Linked DNA regions of Homo sapiens. The protein of the gene in region 6 purifies or fractionates together with the protein of the main gene of each other region. This does not show direct contact. Each region holds a gene or a part of one and is shown on either strand. Other genes may lie near its edges.

Region 1 (3,500 bases), on a different chromosome or scaffold from region 6:
ACTTGTAGGCCCCTATTTTGTCTTTGGCTGTGTTTATCTGCTTTGTGTCTTGACTTAAACTATTTAAAAGTAGATCCTGCTATATGGAAATTTCCAAGTAAAGAGGAGAGAGGATTTTTTTTTTTCTTTGTTGCCCATGGTAGAGTGATCACAGCTCACTGCAGCCTTGAACTCCCCGGGCTCAGATGATCCTCCCACCTCAGCCTTTCAAATAGCTGGGACCACAGGCGCATACCACCATGCCCGACTAATTTTTGTATTTTTTTGTAGAGATGGTTTTGCTATGTTGCCCAGGCTGGTCTCAAACTCCTGGGCTCAAGCAATTAGCCTGCCTCAGCCTCCTAAAGTGCTGGGACTATTGGTGTGAGCCATCACATGTGGCCAGGAGAGAGGAATTTTAAAATATTTATATACTCTAAATTAGTTTGTTGCAAAATACCATTCTAATTAATGCTTTTATGTCATTCTCATGAAACTAATCTGAAAGAGTAAACTTAGTTTTCTATTTTTAGATATTGTTTCAACATACCAAATACCAAAATAAAATTAAATAATTTTAAAGAACATAACACAACTTATACATCCAAATGCCTATTGTTTTCTTAAAAGTAGTCACCCCCGTCAGTGACTTTTTAGCATAAGGTTAGGAGACAGATTCTTATCTTTTCAGCATGCATTTGATTTTTACAAATTTTCAAAGGCTGCTTGATACCTTAATCAGGCCAATATATTAGCTAATTAAATTAAGTCATACTGTTAAAACATGATATTTATAAAATTAAAAGTTAAAAAATAGTCTAAGGGTTTATCTTAAGTTTTATCTTAAAAAAATTAGAAAAATGTTTTGAGCTATGTTATTGTTGGAAGGTGTGGTTTTTCTACGGTAAATGTTACGATATAACACTCATTTGCATGTGTAAGGTTCAGAGTACACTTATAATTTATGTGCACAGATTTTCATTATAAAGTCATTCTCTTTGATTTACATATTTTTACTTGCTATTTTTGTACTTATTATGCCACTGGCAGATTCACCTTATTAAGTGAAACTCTTTATTGCTCTGTTTTCAGTAGAAAAATCACTTTTCAAAATTAATACTTCATCTGTGTATAAGCATATTCTTTTGGTTTCTAAGATTTGCTGTCATATTTTTAAAGTTGAGTTTTAAAGAATTAAAATAATTTTTGTTGTTGTTATTTTCTCATGGTTTACCATTGAATATACCTGTATAATAAAGGTGCAGGATGGGAGGCAGGATAGTGGAATAATTAATTCCATAGACTAGAATCAGATTGCCTGGATTAGTATTTCAGCTTTATTGCCTACTAGCAATATGACTTTGACAAGCTATTTAACCTCTCATTCAGTTTCCTCATCTGTAAAGTGGCAGTTACAGTAATACTTAACCTTATAGTGGTTTGGGGATTTTTTTTTTTTTTTGAGACACGGTCTCACTCTGTCACCCAGGCTGGAGTGCAGTGGCGTGATCCCAGCTCACTGCAGCCTCTACCTCCCGGGCTCAAGCAATCCTCCCACCTCAGCATCCTGAGTAACTGAGACCATGGGCATGAGCCAGCATGCCCTGCTAATTAAAAAATTTTTTTTATAGAGATCGGGTCTTGCTCTGTTGCCCAGGCTGGAGTGCAGTGGCATGATCATGGCTCACTGGAGTCTTGAACTCCCTGGGCTCAAGCAATCCTTCTGCCTTGGCCTTCCAAAGTGCTAGGATTATGGGGGTGAGCCACTGCACTCCATCATTTTTGTGGTATTTAAATTGGGTAATTTGAGTAAAGAGAATAATGCTTGGCACATAGTAATTACTCAACACACTTATTGTAGTATATATTATTGCCATTATTATTTACTTTGTGGCCTGCACTAGTGTTTATAATTAGTGACTATTTCCTTTAGTTTTTATACTTGTCAGAAGAATGGCAATACTTAACCTCTGTTTTACCAGGGTATTGCTATTTGTGCTTATTGCAATAATTAGCTCTTACAAATTGGCTCTAGGAGTCTCACAGAACCACCCAATTATTTTTGTTCTTCCTGTCTCGTTCTTGTTTCCATCTGTCCTCTGATACAAAGCCTTAACAGCCCTTTTGTCATATATCATGCTTATTTTTTGTCTTCTGTTAGCTCATTTGTTTCTCAAAATCTTGCACTTTTAATTTTTAAACATTCATTTATTGTCTTGGCTGGACACGGTGGCTTATGCCTGTAATCCCAACACTTTGGGAGGCTGACGCAGGCGGATCGCGAGGTCAGGAATTTGAGACCAGCGTGGCCAATATGGCGAAACCCCGTCTGTACTAAAAATACAAAAATTAGCCTGGCATGGTGGCACGTGCTGGTGTCCCAGCTACTCGAACCGGAGGCTGAGACAGGAGGATCGCTTGAACCCAGGAGGTGGAGATTGCAGTGAGCCGAGATCGTGACACTGCACTCCAGCCTGGGCAGCAGAGCGAGACTCCGTCTCACAAAAAAAAAAAAAAAAAAGAAAGAAAAAATTCATTTATTGTCTCATTTCAGTTCTACTTTGGGCAGCCTCTGGCTAATGAGAGAACCAGTGTCTTGTGGTCTGGAGTTGTGGGATGGACACTGGTCCCATTGGCTATAGCAGATGAAACTTGGTTGGGGCTGGAAGCCTTCCTATTTTTGTCTTCAGCATCTGGCTGGCCACATATATATATATATATATTTTTTTTTTTTTTTTTTTTTGAGATGGAGTCTAGCTCTGTTGCCAAGGCTGGGGTGCAGTGGCACAATCTCGGCTCACTGCAACCTCCACCTCCCGGGTTCAAGTGATTCTCCTGCCTCAGCCTCCCGAGTAGCTGGGATTACAGGCGCCCACCACCACGCCCATCTAGTTTTTGTATTTTTAGTAGAGACGAGGTTTCACCATGTTGGCCAGGCTGGTCTCGAACTCCTGACCTCATGATCCGCCCACCTCGGCCTCCCAAAGTGATGGGATTACATGCATGAACCACCGCACCTGGCCCTGGCTGGCTATATTTTAAATATAATTCACTCTTGACAAATTTATGAATTAGATATTATAAGCCCCATTTTATACATGAAGAAATTGAGATAGTAATTACATCATTCATTGTCACTCACCTGATAAATAGCAGAACTCATCAAACCCAGGTTTGCAGATTCCTTATCCTTTTTCTACCATACAGTACCTGCCCTTAGTAAGTGTTATTTCACCTCACAAAGAGGAGGAAGTTACAGTTGTGAAGAATACATTTCATTTTTACCTTTGTTATTTATTTTTAGAGACATTTTAAATCCTAAGGATGTGATCACAACTCGCTTTGAGAATTCCTATCCTAGCAAAGATTTCTGCAGCCAATCATGCTTGTCATCTTATGAGCTAAAGAAAAAACCTGTTGTTACCATATATACCAAAAGCATTTCAACTAAGTGCAGTATGTGTCAGAAGAATGCTGATGTAAGTTACATTTTACTTTTATTGGGATTCTGCTGAAAGAGA
Region 2 (3,500 bases), on a different chromosome or scaffold from region 6:
ATGAAGTAGGAAAGATAACAGATGAAGGTCAAAGATGGGCCGATCCATGTCTTGGTGAGAGCACAGAAGCTTGTGGGGCATTCTGATACCAGAGCAGGGTTGAGTTCAATCTTGGAGGCCCACCCATTTTCTCACCCTCAAAATGTGTGCAACCCCAGCTGGTCTCCTGAGAGGTGTGATCCAGGCTGCCTGTGTTCCCTGGAGAAGGTGATCACCCTGCCTTTCATAGGATGCAATCAGAACCCATTCCTGGAGACCGTATCCCACCCTACAAAGTGCAATCAGTTGGCCTTTCCTGTTTTCCACCTCCCGCTGCACAGAGCTTCAGTCCCCTGGCCTCCCTCTGCCCTTAGAGTCAAAAACCCCTCACCTCCCAAGGGCTTTTAACAGCCCTGGTGGCCCAGGCCAATGATACCTACCTTGTCCTGATCAGGACTGTAACAAGGGTGGCCTCCCTGGAGGTTGTGACAAATGGGCCTTAATATACACCCCCATCCCTCTGGAGAGGACACAACCTAATCCTGGGTATAACCTGCTTGTCGCTCCCTCTCTTTACCCATGAAGCCAGCTTCTTAAGCTACTTCTCTTCTTCTTGCATAATGGGTGCAATCCAAGAAGCCTTCCCTAAGGCAGTGGCTTCCTTACACCGGACCTATTTATAACCATCCTATCCCCAGCGCTAGAAGAAGCTACTCCACTCGCGCACACGTCTCCCTGGTCTATTCCGGGCAGAGGTGCAATCCAGACAATCTCCCCGATGGCAGGGACCCTGCAATCCGGAATCCATATGTAACCCACCTCCTCTCTCTCCCTGTCTAGGAGAAGCCGACCCCTCCCGCAATGCCCGCCCCGCCGTGCGCCTCCTGCCATGCTGCACGCGCCGCCCTCCGCCGTCCGCTCTCGGGCCAAGCGCTGTGCGGTGCCTGCTTCTGCGCCGCCTTCGAGGCCGAGGTGCTGCACACGGTGCTCGCCGGCCGCCTGCTGCCGCCCGGCGCGGTGGTGGCCGTGGGCGCCTCGGGCGGCAAGGACTCCACGGTGCTGGCGCACGTGCTGCGCGCGCTGGCGCCGCGCCTGGGCATCTCACTGCAGCTCGTGGCCGTCGATGAGGGCATCGGTGGCTACCGGGACGCGGCGTTGGCGGCCGTGCGGCGCCAGGCGGCGCGCTGGGAGCTGCCGCTCACGGTCGTGGCCTACGAAGACCTCTTTGGGGGCTGGACGATGGACGCCGTGGCCCGCAGCACAGCCGGCTCCGGCCGCAGCCGCTCCTGCTGCACCTTCTGTGGAGTGCTGCGGCGCCGGGCGCTGGAGGAAGGGGCGCGCCGCGTGGGAGCCACGCACATCGTGACAGGTGAGCGTAGTACGGGCCGCAGAGCGGCACTCTCCGAGGCAGTGGGGCGAATGCACAGGCGAGGAGGCGGGACCTGAAAGGGGATTCAGGCGCATGCTCCAGAAGGCGGCGAGGAGACCCTGGTGGCTTAATGGGAGGATCCCTGTACGGAGGTGCGGAAGGGCGCATGCTGCAGTTTGGGGCTGGGGCCCTTTAAAGGTTCAAGACGCTGGGGAGACAGAGGGGCCAGGCAGTGATCACAAAGGTTTTTGGGTCTTGGCCACCGTCTTGGTCTCCACAGATTGCCAAAGGGGTGGGAGGTGAAAATCTCTGGAGATCTCTGGTCCTTTACTTATTTTTAAATGTTTCTAACATGCTTGATCTCTTATGGTCCACCTTTCAGAATCCAGCTCTTTCTCTAAAAAGCATCTCCATCTCTTAATTCCTTTTCTTGGTTGGCCTCTCCTCTTTGATAACTTTTTTTTTTTTTTTTTTTTTGAGACAGAGTCTCGCTCTGTCTCCCAGGCTGGAGTGCAGTGGTGCGATCTCGGCTTACTGCAACCTCTGCCTCCCGGATTCACGCCATTCTCCTGGCTCAGCCTCCCGAGTAGCCGGGGCTACAGGTGCCTGCCACCACGCCCAGCTAATTTTTTGTATTTTTAGTAGAGACGGGGTTTCACCATGTTAGCCAGGATGATCTCGATCTCCTGACCTCGTGATCCACCCACCTCGGCCTCCCAAAGTGCTGGAAGATAACTTTTTTATTCTGTCTTTTTCATCCATTCCTTCAACAAACAGATGCTAAGTTTCTGCTATATGCCGGATCCCAACTGTGGCCATACCAAAGTTCTTAACCACTCTGTACTTCTGTTTCACCCCATCCCTAAAACAGGACTATGAATGGTACCCAGCTCATAAACTTGTTATGACAATTAGATGAGTCAGTAGAAGTATAACGTTATCTATATTATAGTTATGTTACATAACCCGTATGATATAATATAGATTACACATTTTATACATGCTATTATCATCATCATTGTCAGGCTAGGGCTGAGAATACAGTTACGCACAAGTTCCTACCTTTGCATGGTTATCAGGTACAAAATTATAAACATTATACATGTTATTGACCATGTATGGACATGTTATGGACTATGTGTACACACAGAGAACCCTATGACGTGGAGGGAGTGGGGTCAAGGAACGGTTTTGAAATCTGAAGGCTCACAGTGAAGAGGTAAAGCGGGTAAGAATTAGGGAGAGGTTATTGGCCTGTGAAAAGCCAATTTGGGCTGCCCCAAGAAGTCCAGTGTGGCTGGAACCCAGAAAGCAAGGGCAGGGGAGGCTGGAGAGGTGGAAGAGGTCAGGCCTTACCCTGTAGGCTGTGGCGGAACCAGTAAAAGTGACATGAAGAGAGTTTCACTTTGAAAAGCTCACCCAGGCCATGGCGAGGAACCTGGGTTGGAGGGACAGGGACAAAGCCGAGGAGACCAGTCAGTGGGAAGCCAGCTGCGGTGATGGAGGTGAGAGATGATGGTTGGAGAGAATCAGCACACTGAAAGCATATGAAGGCAAAAGTAGTTCTGAGGCTGTCATGTGCCACCATGCTAGGTAGGGCCACTGGCTCTGGGGAAGGCTTACTGAGCTTCATTCACTGATGTGGCCCTTTCCTTACTGAGTAACTTTGGAGAAATCCCTAGATCTCTGTGATTGAAAATGGGAAGAATAATCCTTACCATACAAGAGCAGACAGTGTATGGAAAGAATGAAAGGCTTCGGCCGGGCACAGTGGCTCACACCTGTAATCCCAGCACTTTGGGAGGCTGAGGCAGGCGGAATCACAAGGTCAAACGTTCGAGGCCAGCCTGGCCAACATGGTGAAACCCCGTCTCTACTAAGAATACAAAAATTAGCTGAGTGTGGTGGTGGGCGGCTGTAATCCCAGCTACACGGGAGGCTGAGGCAGGAGAATTGCTTGAACCCGGGAGGCGGAGGTTGCAGTGAGTCGAGATCACGCCACTGCACTCCAGCCTGGGTGACAGAGCAAGATTCCAGCTGGGGGAGAAAAAAAAAGAATGAGAGGCTGCCTCGGATTTTAAAGTTAATTTGATAGAATCACTTATTAATTGTACTTCCAAAAGTAATGAAGCCTTCCAGAAAAATCCCTGAC
Region 3 (3,500 bases), on a different chromosome or scaffold from region 6:
TCTGTCGCCCAGGCTGGAGTGCAGTGGCGCAATCTCAGCTCACTGCAAGCTCCGCCTCGCGGGTTCACGCCATTCTCGTATCTCAGCCTCGCGAGCAGCTGGGACTACAGGTGCCCACCACCACGTCTGGCTAATTTTTTGTATTTTTAGTAGAGACAGGGTTTCACCGTGTTAGCCAGGATGGTCTCAATCTCCTGACCTCGTGATCCGCCCGCCTCGGCCTCCCAAAGTGCTGGGATTACAGGTGTGAGCCACCGCGCCTGGCCGGCCTTGTTCTGTTTTTAAAAGCCTATATGCCGGGCACGGTGGGTCACGCCTGTAATCCCAGCACTTTGGGAGGCTGAGGCGGGTGGATCACGAGGTCAGGAGATCGAGACCATCCTGGCTAACATGGTGAAACCCCATCGTTACTAAAAATACAAAAAAAAAAAAAAATTAGCGGGGTGTGGTGGCGGGCGCCTGTAGTCCCAGCTACTCTGGAGGCTGAGGCAGGAGAATGGCATGAACCCGGGAGGCGGAGCTTGCAGTGAGCCGAGATCGTGCCACTGCACTCCAGCCTGGGCGACAGAGCGAGACTCTGTCTCAGAAAAAAAAAAAAAAACCTGTATTGAGTACCCAGTTGTTCAGCTTATGTGATGGGGCAAGACTGATTTGGGTAAACGAGTTAGTTAACAAGCACAGCCTAACACTTTCCCCTTGCATCTGAATGTAAGACATCATGTGACAGTGATAATGGAGTAAATCTACAATGTTAGTGAACTATAATCCAGAATTAGAAAAATGTCCAAATATGTGAATCTAAAAATGGGGTAGCTTTTTATTTTTAAAAAGTGGATTATTAGATGTAATTGTAATTATTTTGGCCATATGTTAATAGAATATATTAAGTTAGCCTTCCCTTATGAATATTAAACTAACTTAATTATAAATGATACCACTATTGGGCCAGGTGCGGTGGCTCACGCCTGTAATCCCAGCACTTTGGGAGGCCAAACGGGAGGATCACTTGAGGTCAGGAGTTCAAGACCAGCCTGGCCAACATGGTGAAACTCCATCTCTACTAAAAATACAAAAATTAGCCGGGCATAGTGGCACACACCTAATAATCCCAGCTACCCGGGAGGCTGAGGCAGGAGAATTGCTTGAACCTGGGGAAGGTAAAGGTTGTAGTGAGCCGAGATCATACCACTGCACTCCAGCCTGGACAACAGAGCAAGACTCTGTCTCAAAAATAAATAAATAAATAAAAATAAATTATGCCACTATTGTTGCTTAACGTTAAAGATTAGTGAATTGTTAAGATTTCTCAAAATATAAAAGTTGTTCATACTAATAAAGGATAAAAATAGAAATTTTCGAAATTATCCTTTTTGTTTTGTTGTGCCTTTGCCAATATCCTGTTCTCTCACAGAAAAATAAAACGTATATGTATTTTTTTGTCTTTGTACTTTGGTGGGTTTTGTTTTGTTTTGTTTTTGTTTTTTTGAGACACAGTCTTGCTCTGTTGCCCAGGCTGGCGTGCAATGGCACGATCTCAGCTCACTGCAACCTCCGCCTCCCAGGTTCAAGCAATTCTTCCATCTCAGCCTCCCAAGTAGCTGGGGTTACTTGGGCGCACACCACCACACCCAGCTAATTTTTGTATTTTTGTAGAGACGGGGTTCCACCATGTTGGCCAGGCTGGTCTTGAACTCCTGACCTCAGATGATCTGCCCGCCTCGGCCTGCCAAAGTGCTGGGATTACAGGTGTGAGTCACCGTGCCCAGCCTGTCTGTGTACTTTGCATCTCCAAAAGCAGTTTTGTTCCATCGGTGATTTTTTTTTTTTTTTTTTTTTTTTAGACTGAGTCTTGCTTTTCCACCCAGGATGGAGGCTGGAGTGCATGGTGTGAGCAAAGCTCACTGGAGGCCCAACCTCAGGTGTTCAAGCAATCCTCCTGCCTCAGCCTCCCATGTAGCTGGGACCACAGGCATGCGCCACCACACCTGGTTAATGTTTGTGTTTTTTGTAGAGATGGGTCTCACTTTGCTGCCTAGGCTGGTCTCGAACTCCTGGGCTCAAGTGATCTTCCTGCCTTAGCCTCCCAAAGTGCTGGGATTACGGGCAAGAGCCACCACACTGAGCCTGATGTATTATTTTTTCTTTCTTTTTTTGAGACAGAGTCTTACTCTGTCACCCAGGCTGGAGTGCAATGGCATGATCTCGGCTCACTGCAACCTCTGTCTTCCTGGGCTCAAGTGATCCTTCCCACCTCAGCCTCACAAGTAAATGGGACTACAGGCGCACGCCACCACACTAGGCTAATTTTTTATTTTTATTTATTTATTTATTAGAGATGAGGTATCACTATTTTACCAGTCTGGTCTCAAACTCCTGGGTTCAAGTGATCCCCCCGCCTCAACCTCTGAAAGTTGAGATTACAGGCGTGAGCCACTGTGCCTAGGCTCTGACATATTCTGAAATCCAGGAATATTGGTTCCTGTTTGACTAGAAAGAATAGGTGGTGAGCATAATCTTTACAGTAATGCCTGCCTTTCAAAGTTTATATCCTTTCTTTTGCATGGTTACTACTTACTGAACTCACAGTACTCTATACTTTCTATTGCTTGTATGCTGCTTTCTTACAATATGCTTGTAATTTTTACCATGAAGTTAGCCTAGAAAAACAGTGATTCCCACAGTATCTTGTAAGGTATTTAAGTTAAGCACTCCTTCCTGGCTCCTCCTCAGCATCGGTAGACATCTTCCCAAGTTAATTCCCAAGCTACCATTGAGGACAGATCTATAACTATATAAGGCCTTTGTTTATCCAGTAGGCTTTGACTGCCTGAAATGAACTTCTGTGACCACTTTCTTCATTGCTTTTTTTTTTTTCCCTTGAAAAGGAGTTTCACTCTTGTTGCCCAGGCTGGAGTGCAGTGTCACAATCTCAGCTCACTGCAACCTCTGCCACCCAGGTTCAAGTGATTCTCCTGCCTCAGCCTCCTGAGTAACTGTGATTACAGGCGCTCGCCACTACACCTAGCTAATTTTTTGTATTTTTAGTAGAGACGGGATTTCACTATGTTGGCCAGGCTGGTCTCGAACTCCTGACCTCAGGTGATCTGCCTGCTTTGGCCTCCCAAAGTGCTGGGATTACATGCATGAGCCACTGCACCTGGCCTTACTGCTTTCATAGGTATTATTATTATTGCTGTTAAATATATCTGATAAATAATAAAAATCATTTTCAGATTTGCCAATATTCTTTTAGTTATTGCAATCTGTAGTGTCTTTTTAAGAAAATGTAAAAACTGTCTTAATTGTTATTCTTTTTAATATTCCAACTAAAAGCAGTGGTAATAGGTTCTTCTTCATTAACAACATATCATATACCAGGAATATGAATATTATTTTAATCTCTAAACAGAAACCTGCCAAACCACTTATATCTGTTCCTTGCAAACCATTGAAGCCCTCAGATGAAATGATTGAGACTACGAGTGATTTGGGGAAGACAG
Region 4 (3,106 bases), on a different chromosome or scaffold from region 6:
CTCCAACAAAAATGCTCCCATTGTTGAACATATTTTACCTAAGTATATAACCTATCTGGAAGCTGAAAGTCTCCAAAGCTATTGCTTCCTAGGACTGCTGTGTCCTAACAGCTGGCATATGAATGCCTCATACTGGTTTGCCCTAGACTCAAAAAACTTTTTAAAGGATTCTAACAATATACAAACTCTGCTTCCACAAACAAATACAAGTGACGACATGATATGCTGCAGTTCACATATAGCAACTCAAAATGCCACCAAGTCTAAATATTAGGTTAACATCTTCAATAGCTAGTTTGCTCAGAACAAATGTAAACTATTTTGATGATAACTACAAAAGCGGCAAAATCAAAAGTTGGTGCTTTAAATTATTCACACGCACATTATAAAAGGGAAAGGGAATACAATTCAGAAGTATTTTAAAGGCCCAAACCAAAAAAAGATGTTCAAGATGCTAGATTAATGAAAAACTTTCACAAATAAATTTGACAACAATGAAATTACAGATCTTGAAAAATGTGTCCTCTTTCTTTAATGTTAGTGACAGTTCTATACAGCACAGACATAACTGAAGAAACACATTACTTTGATTTGGGTTTATGTATTGTACTTTTAATCACTTACTGAGAATATTTCAAATTTATATTCTCATCAGGAAAATGTAAAAAAGATACTGATATATATTCTATGATTTTTATGCCACAAACACCCCTGTTATGAGATCATTTAATAGGAAAACAATTATACTGACATCTCTTGTTCCATTTTCCCATTAGATATATACATACAACTTCAAGATAGTTTAAAAATAATCATTCAGGTTATTCTAAAATTTTGCCATAAAATTAGCAAAGTATGCCTTCTGTTAATTGCTAAAACCAATATTTCACATATAAAAGCATGTGATCTCATTCTACATGCAGCTCCATTTCTGAAAATTAAAAACCTATCATTTCATGGGCTAAATTATAGAACTTTCTATATTCGAAGAACTACTTCATAAGACTGTTATGACAAATGCTTTTTATTACATAATATTTAGTAGTCATGCTCAATCAACAAGGTCAACAGAAACTTGTGAATATTCTGCTAAATAATCTAGCACACTAATACATACACGTTTTTCAGTGCAGTAACATTGAAATAATCCTTGTATCCTTTATTCAGACAGTTCTGCAAACTAGGGAATAAATAAAGATACGAACACACAAGAACTTTTTTTTAAAGCAGGTAAGATTAACAGAGATTAAAATTTATTGATAAGCCAAAGACTGACCCTGATCCTAGTAACACCAAACTCAAAGTAGCTCCTGGTCAGAAAGTGCAGTAAAGGGTGCATGAAAGCATCCGCTCTATGGTCTCCTCAGTGGTCTATTTTAGGTGTGGTTTTTTTTTTTTTTTTTACTGCTAAACTATATTAACTCATAATAAAAAGTAACTAGTCAAAATTTAGAACATTCTGATCAAAATGGGTCTGCACATGCCTTTCAAACACCTGCTGGTCATAGTCAGGAGGGAACTGCTCGCTGCACATCGGGCACACCTTCCAGTGACTTTCAACATGTTCTTCAAATTTGCTCTGATCATAGTTAGGAGGAAACATTAACTCACAGAGGGGACACTTCTTGTGAACATCAAAGCTTAAAGAGAAAAATGAAAGAATTACATGTTTCTAATAAATGTAGAACAACAACTTGTCCATATATGACAAGGTTCCATTTATCTAGTTAGCTGATATTCATACTAAACAACCTACCTTAAAAGTCTTTACTCCAGAAACATTTCTCTGCTTCTAAATGCTTGCTGTAGACAATTGTGTAACCCATTTATAGAGCCTCTAAATTCAATTTTACAATTAGATTAACAAAACCGTTTTTCCCCCTTAAAACCTCCCAAATCCAATCACAATTACGTGAAATTAGTACCAAGAATTCTTCCACGTTTAACAGAAAATGCCTTTTGTAAGACTGTAAGGATAAATACAACTCATAACTTCCCACCAGTGCATTTGGTTTAATAGCAAAGTTTTTATGGCACTGGTTCTCAAATGCTTGTATGCATCAGAATCAGTCGGAGGACATGTTTTTGTTTTTGGCCAAAAATACTGTATTTTTAACCAGCAAGATCATTGGTGCATTATTATACAACATTAGGTGTTTTTTGCAAAACTAGTTCCCATCCCCAAACAACAGACAATACATGCATTTGAATGACATTTTAGGAACAGTAAATATTCTTTTAAATACTGCAAGTTAAAAATGTTTTCTGACAAAACTCCCTAAATCGGAGGACATGTTAAAACACATATTGCTGGGCCTACGCCTGGTGTTTCTGGTTCAGCTAGGCCAGGCCCTACACATGTGCATTTCTAATGAGTTCCCAAGGACCACCTTTGAGAACCACTGGCCGATATAACCCAAATTCTACAAAGTAAAGAAGAAAACTACCTGGAATCAAAGCAAAAGCCTGTCCCATGCCCACGTAAATGTTGACTTGGAGGATCAGGAGCAGTAGGCACATTCTCATCTTCCTAGGGGAAAAATAATTTTGGAACTTTTAAGAAAAGTAAAACCAAATATAAATTCCTTAATTCAATCAAGCACATACTGACAGTATAAAAGAAGATTACACTTCAGGAAATTTTCTCTCTGCTATCATTTAATTAGACTTTCAAATAAACATGTTTGAAACTTTGCAGAGTATTTCACTATAAACTAACACTGTGGTGTTCTTGAAATAAAAAGCAGTATTCAGAGGAATAGAGACATACCATTTACACATACCATTTACCATACCTGTATGTGTAAATGAAGCTGAGAACAGTAGACCTTTTCAAACCTATATACGTAGGTAACTTTTACTGACTTTATCATTCTGCAGACTGGGTGACCAGTTTTTTGCTTTTTTTTTTTTTGAGATGGAGTCATCACTCTGTCACCCAGGCTGGAGTGCAGTGGCGCGATCTCGGCTGACTGCAACCCCTGCCTCCTGGGTTCAAGCAATTCTTATGCCTCAGCCTCCTGAGTAGCTGGGATTATAGGTGTGCACCACCATGCCCAGCTAATTTTTGTATTTTTTAGTAGAGACAGGGTTTCACCATGTTAGC
Region 5 (2,543 bases), on a different chromosome or scaffold from region 6:
GGTAATACTGAGCCTTTACCTCCTGATTCTGGTGACAAGAACCTTGTAATACAGAAATCAAAAGATGAAGCCCAAGATAATGGGGCTACTATAATGCCTATTATAACAGAGTCTTTTTCATTATCTGCCGAAGATTATGAAATGAAAAAGATCATTGTTACCGATTCTGATGATGATGATGATGATGTCATTTTTTGCTCCGAGATTCTGCCCACAAAGGAGACTTTGCCGAGTAATAACACAGTGGCACAGGTCCAATCTAACCCAGGCCCTGTTGCTATTTCAGATGTTGCACCTAGTGCTAGCAATAACTCGCCCCCTTTAACAAATATCACACCTACTCAGAAACTTCCTACTCCTGTGAATCAGGCAACTTTGAGCCAAACACAAGGAAGTGAAAAATTGTTGGTATCTTCAGCTCCAACACATCTGACTCCCAATATTATTTTGTTAAATCAGACACCACTTTCTACACCACCAAATGTCAGTTCTTCACTTCCAAATCATATGCCCTCTTCAATCAATTTACTTGTGCAGAATCAGCAGACACCAAACAGTGCTATTTTAACAGGAAACAAGGCCAATGAAGAGGAGGAGGAGGAAATAATAGATGATGATGATGACACTATTAGCTCCAGTCCTGACTCGGCCGTCAGTAATACATCTTTGGTCCCACAGGCTGATACCTCCCAAAATACCAGTTTTGATGGATCATTAATACAGAAGATGCAGATTCCTACACTTCTTCAAGAACCACTTTCCAATTCCTTAAAAATTTCAGATATAATTACTAGAAATACTAATGATCCAGGCGTAGGATCAAAACATCTAATGGAGGGTCAGAAGATCATTACTTTAGATACAGCTACTGAAATTGAAGGCTTATCGACTGGTTGCAAGGTTTATGCAAATATCGGTGAAGATACTTATGATATAGTGATCCCTGTCAAAGATGACCCTGATGAAGGGGAGGCCAGACTTGAGAATGAAATACCAAAAACGTCTGGCAGCGAGATGGCAAACAAACGTATGAAAGTAAAACATGATGATCACTATGAGTTAATAGTAGATGGAAGGGTCTATTATATCTGTATTGTATGCAAAAGGTCATATGTCTGTCTGACAAGCTTGCGGAGACATTTTAACATTCATTCTTGGGAGAAGAAGTATCCGTGCCGTTACTGTGAGAAGGTATTTCCTCTTGCAGAATATCGCACAAAGCATGAAATTCATCACACAGGGGAGCGAAGGTATCAGTGTTTGGCCTGTGGCAAATCTTTCATCAACTATCAGTTTATGTCTTCACATATAAAGTCAGTTCATAGTCAAGATCCTTCTGGGGACTCAAAGCTTTATCGTTTACATCCATGCAGGTCTTTACAAATCAGACAATATGCATATCTTTCCGATAGATCAAGCACTATTCCTGCAATGAAGGATGATGGTATTGGGTATAAGGTTGACACTGGAAAAGAACCTCCAGTAGGGACCACTACATCTACTCAGAACAAGCCAATGACCTGGGAAGATATTTTTATTCAGCAGGAAAATGATTCAATTTTTAAACAAAATGTAACAGATGGCAGTACTGAGTTTGAATTTATAATACCAGAGTCTTACTAAACTCCTTTGAAATACTAGAAAGTTTTGTTTTGGATGATGGGGCAGGGGTTTCAGAAGATCTGTAAAACAAATTAAGGTGCGAACAAGTTAATTTGATCTGCCACATTATCTGAAGGAAGTGTAGTGGGATTTTTGTTGATAATTTTTAGAAGCAAATTTTCCTGAAAGTTTTGAGTAGAGGTGAGACCCCCTCCCCAAGTATCTGTTTATATAGTTAGTTTTCAGCTCATTTAAAAGAGGCAAAAATTAAAAGCTTGGAGAGATAGTTTCCTGAATAGAATTTGAAGCAGTCTGAATGTTCTTTGAAAATAACTGGAGTTATTAGCATACCCTAGTACATCTTACAGCTTTCCCCTTCCATGTTAGCACTTTACTGCTGAATTCTCAATTTTCTTAACATTGAGACAATAAATGTGTGTTTTGTCTTGTATATGGCATAAAGAGTAAATAAGTTTTAGAGTTGTTCTGGAAAATGTCAGAATAAGTCAGTACTTGGGTTGTGTAATCTGCTAGTCCAAGCGAACAGCAACCTCCTGCTACCCTCCCTCTATGAAAATAGCCATGCAGACAAGTCTCTCATCTGAAGAACAAATTAGATTTAGCTAATTAGAATTAATCCTGGCTTTCATTGCCATAGTCTGTAAAAGACTTTGGTGGCTAGACCACTTTATACCTTCGCAGTGTGGTCTCTGGGGGCAAAAAACTAATGAAAACAATCTCTGTAATGGCAGATAGGAGGAGATGAAAAGTTCTGTTGCATGGATTTTTAATTCTCTGGCTACCACATAGTAGAGAATGGAATGAAGATTTCCTTTTGGCTTCTTAAGGTTAAAAATATTCCCATGAACATGAAAATTTTCAAATTTTGAATCTGAAAGCCACCAAATGTATCTTTATGTATAAATCCTTGTAAATGATAG
Region 6 (3,500 bases):
GATTGAGACCATCCTGGCCAACACGGTAAAATCCCATATCTACTAAAAATACAAAAATTAGCCAGGCACGGTGGCATGAGCCTGTAGTCCCAGCTACTCAGGAGGCTGAGGCAGGAGAATGGCTTGAACCCGGGAAGTAGAGGTTGCAGTGAGCCGAGATCACACCACAGCACTCCAGCCTGGGCAATAGAGCAGGACTCTGTCTCAAAAAACAAAACAAAACAAAAAATTAAGAAATATGGTCTATATTGTAAGGCATTTTCTGTGGATCCAGGCCTGTTATGTAATTAGGACTGGGGTGGGAGAAGGACCGTCTTGTCTTATATTTAGACTTCTGATCTGATCACTAAATAAGTTACAGGTATTTTGATGTTGTCATGTTTAAAGTGTCATTTAAAATAAACAATTGAAATATTATCAATTTGGTAATCCCTTTTGTGGTTTTATATGTTTTATATATTCATTTTATAATACACTAAAAGCCTCACAAAATGGCAGTAGACTGCAGTTCCTAACCCCTGAGGGGCCGTGTTTCATGATGCTATTATACACATCTAAAACTAAAATAAATATTAATGAAAACGACGTTTTCCATATTAAGTGAAGAGAGTTAAAGGTACATATTTTATTTCTATAAAGTGACAAACACTTGATCGCTGTAAATGTGAATACAACTTTTATTTTTAAACCTTTCAAGGGAATTAGATCTATTTTCCTGCTGTTTCCAAGCCTTCGGTAACCCTCTGAGTGTGTTTGTATTCACTAGGAAGGAACATTTCTGTGGAATTAATCAAATGGAGAATTCAATGTTCCTTTTAGATAATTTTGGCCATGTTCCATTGCGAACTTTCTAGTCTGCATTTCATCTCTTTCCTGGGAAAAGACCCACATATTCCAAATCCTCTGCCTTTTCTCTACTTGTTAGTGAAGAACAATATAGCAAAACTGCTATGTACAGAATTAATAATCATGTGCATTCAGCAAGGCTCTCTGCTGGGAATTTCATCACTAGAATAAGGCAAAACGCATGAGAATAAGAGTTCAAATGTAGTCAGTACAAACTAGTATCAAAAACTCTGTTGTATTATCGTTAATTGCTCCTCTGATTTTGCTAAAATTAAAAGAAAAATTATGTGGGGGGAGAATTAGAAAATATTCAAAGCTCCTAATATATTCCAGTAAACCCTGAGATGACAAATCTCATTTTCCAAGGAAAAGCAGTGCTAATTTTTTTTTGTAACAACAAAGAATTCATGTTCAATGCCTAATTAAAACCTGGAAATCTATATGCGTTGTTTCTTTTTTTTTTTTTTTTTTTTTTTTTTTTTTTTTTTTTTGAGACGGAGTCTGGCTCTGTCGCCCAGGCTGGAGTGCAGTGGCACAATCTCGGCTCACTGCAAGCTCCGCCTCCCGGGTTCACGCCATTCTTCTGCCTCAGCCTCCCGAGTAGCTGGGACTACAGGCTGTGCATTGTTTCTTAATGGCTTTCCAAATTTACAAAACAATCAGAGTCCTTATCTATCACTGGCTTTATGTTTCATATCAGCTTTTTTATTCATCTTACAGAATGCATTTTGCCTTGCAGATGAATTCTAGCTATTTTATCCATAGCTATAATGGAATAGCTGCTGCTATTATTTATGCTCTATACATGTTACTTTGGCCCTAAAGCCTGAAGGAACCCATTGTTGTTTTCTACCACTGATGATTTTATCTGCACTTCTGCATCTGGGCAATTGTTCACAATAGTCACAAAGACCTAGCACTTGGTCTGAGAATCCTACCTGCTGAGGAGTTTTATTTGGCCAGTTTGGTAAAGGACATTTAAATGAAGATATCTAAAGCTAGCAGAAAACAGAGATTTTGGAGTCATCAGCACATTTGGGATGGTGGAAGCCACAGCCAAGGAGGGGATGTAGTACACGAAGACCTCAGGGTAAATGTGCAGAGCCCTTATTAGGTATTCAGTAAAGACTTGAGGAGTAAAAGAATGAACTAGAAAATGACAATGTACTGATTATTAATTTATATTTGAGTAAAAAAGACTGTTATTTCCATCAAAATCTGCCTCTAGAATTTTCCAGCAAGAAAGTAAGTGATGATAGTTATTAAAAGCCCTAGCAACAGTTTATATCCTTGAGGTAAAACCATCCTGTTTCAACAGATACCATATTCTCATTGAATTCCACATTAGCTTATGATAAACACAAGATGTTTTTCATAATCTAGATGCAGGTTTTATGCATTTTTTTTTAGCAAAACATACAGGGAACTGCCAAGATGGGAGAGTAATCTTTCCTAAATCACTCCAAATGTCACCATGACTATAAGCATACTTTCCTAAATTGGGGGATTTTTGCTTAAGAAAATATAAGTTCATTCAAATGCTTCACTCACATTATATTAAGGTTTCATCATTTATCCTATAAACAAAATTCTGCTTTTATATACATTAATCACTTTGTCATTCATAGGATCAAACCAAAATGACAACTGCTCACTTTTACTGTCAATACTGCACAGCATCACTTCTTGGGAAGAAATATGTACTAAAGGATGACAGTCCATACTGTGTTACATGTTATGATCGTGTATTTTCTAACTATTGCGAGGAATGCAAAAAACCAATTGAATCTGATTCTAAGGTAAGTCTCACCTCAATTTACAGAATTACTGCCTATGAACAGCAAACAAGTGGGTTGGAGTGCCTCTTTTCATTTAGTGTTGACTTTCAACACTATTTCTCTGCTACTGGATATATAAGGATCTTAAAAGTTACCAGCAGTCAAGCTCCAGCCACTACACTTAGCACTATGAAATACAACATATGCTTAATCCTCACATGATCTTCTAAGGTAGCTGAGAATGCTAAAGATTAAAGGGGTTAAGCTATTTGTCCAAAGTTACACAGCTAGAATTTTCCTGCTGTTTCCAAGCTCTCAGTAACCTTCTGGGTGTGTTTGTTATTTCTGGAATGACAAGGGTATAAATAAATGCATAAAGAATTGAAGTTGAAAGGATTCAAAATCTGTTTTCTGATGTAAAATCAGCTTCATTTCTTACTAAACCCTATTGATACCTCTCACACCTACCACCCCTTCCTCCGACATGCTTATTCTTTCTTTCTTTCTTTCTTTCTTCTTTTCTTCCTTCCATCCTCCGATTATTTTCCTCTCTCTTTCTCTCTCTCTCTCTCTCTCTCTCTGTCTCTTTCTTCCCTCTTTCTGCCTTTGTTTTACTTAGGTGATGTTATTTTTTGTCTGTTTAGTTACATCTCAAAGAGTAATAGAACATTGCACCCTAAAATTTTTAAAAATCATTCCATGAAAAACCTCTATTATAGTTTATAAAAAGAATATAGGCAAATTTTGAAGACACAGCAGAGAATGTATTTGTTTTTTCCCAGCTGCCTTAAGTGACCCACCAAGAAAGCCCTGGGCTCTAGCTCTTAATTACCCCAGAGAGTCTCCTCTCTATGGGTAACAGTTTCAGTAACAACT

Evidence for each region.
Region 1: the proteins of FHL5 (region 6) and ZMYM6 purify together in Homo sapiens (affinity purification with mass spectrometry; 3 studies listed by BioGRID and IntAct, with this or other methods). This does not show direct contact.
Region 2: the proteins of FHL5 (region 6) and CTU1 purify together in Homo sapiens (affinity purification with mass spectrometry; 3 studies listed by BioGRID and IntAct, with this or other methods). This does not show direct contact.
Region 3: the proteins of FHL5 (region 6) and ZMYM1 purify together in Homo sapiens (affinity purification with mass spectrometry; 3 studies listed by BioGRID and IntAct, with this or other methods). This does not show direct contact.
Region 4: the proteins of FHL5 (region 6) and TAX1BP1 purify together in Homo sapiens (affinity purification with mass spectrometry; 3 studies listed by BioGRID and IntAct, with this or other methods). This does not show direct contact.
Region 5: the proteins of FHL5 (region 6) and ZBTB33 purify together in Homo sapiens (affinity purification with mass spectrometry, with the first as the bait; one large-scale study listed by BioGRID). This does not show direct contact.

The regions. Positions count from the first base shown.
Region 1 is NC_000001.11:35,014,946-35,018,445, reverse strand, and holds part of ZMYM6 (zinc finger MYM-type protein 6), read left to right. Parts: intron 1-3,283; coding exon 3,284-3,458; intron 3,459-3,500. UniProt on the Homo sapiens protein: Plays a role in the regulation of cell morphology and cytoskeletal organization.
Region 2 is NC_000019.10:51,101,910-51,105,409, reverse strand, and holds part of CTU1 (cytoplasmic tRNA 2-thiolation protein 1), read left to right. Parts: intron 1-819; 5' UTR 820-840; coding exon 841-1,348; intron 1,349-3,500.
Region 3 is NC_000001.11:35,106,885-35,110,384, forward strand, and holds part of ZMYM1 (zinc finger MYM-type protein 1), read left to right. Parts: intron 1-3,409; coding exon 3,410-3,500.
Region 4 is NC_000007.14:27,827,162-27,830,267, reverse strand, and holds the end of TAX1BP1 (tax1-binding protein 1), read right to left. Parts: intron 2,531-3,106; coding exon 2,448-2,530; intron 1,641-2,447; coding exon 1,439-1,640; 3' UTR 501-1,438; downstream 1-500.
Region 5 is NC_000023.11:120,253,812-120,256,354, forward strand, and holds part of ZBTB33 (transcriptional regulator Kaiso), read left to right. Parts: coding exon 1-1,623; 3' UTR 1,624-2,543. UniProt on the Homo sapiens protein: Transcriptional regulator with bimodal DNA-binding specificity.
Region 6 is NC_000006.12:96,601,128-96,604,627, forward strand, and holds part of FHL5 (four and a half LIM domains protein 5), read left to right. Parts: exon of another isoform or gene 1-25; intron 26-2,474; 5' UTR 2,475-2,486; coding exon 2,487-2,645; intron 2,646-3,500. UniProt on the Homo sapiens protein: May be involved in the regulation of spermatogenesis. Stimulates CREM transcriptional activity in a phosphorylation-independent manner.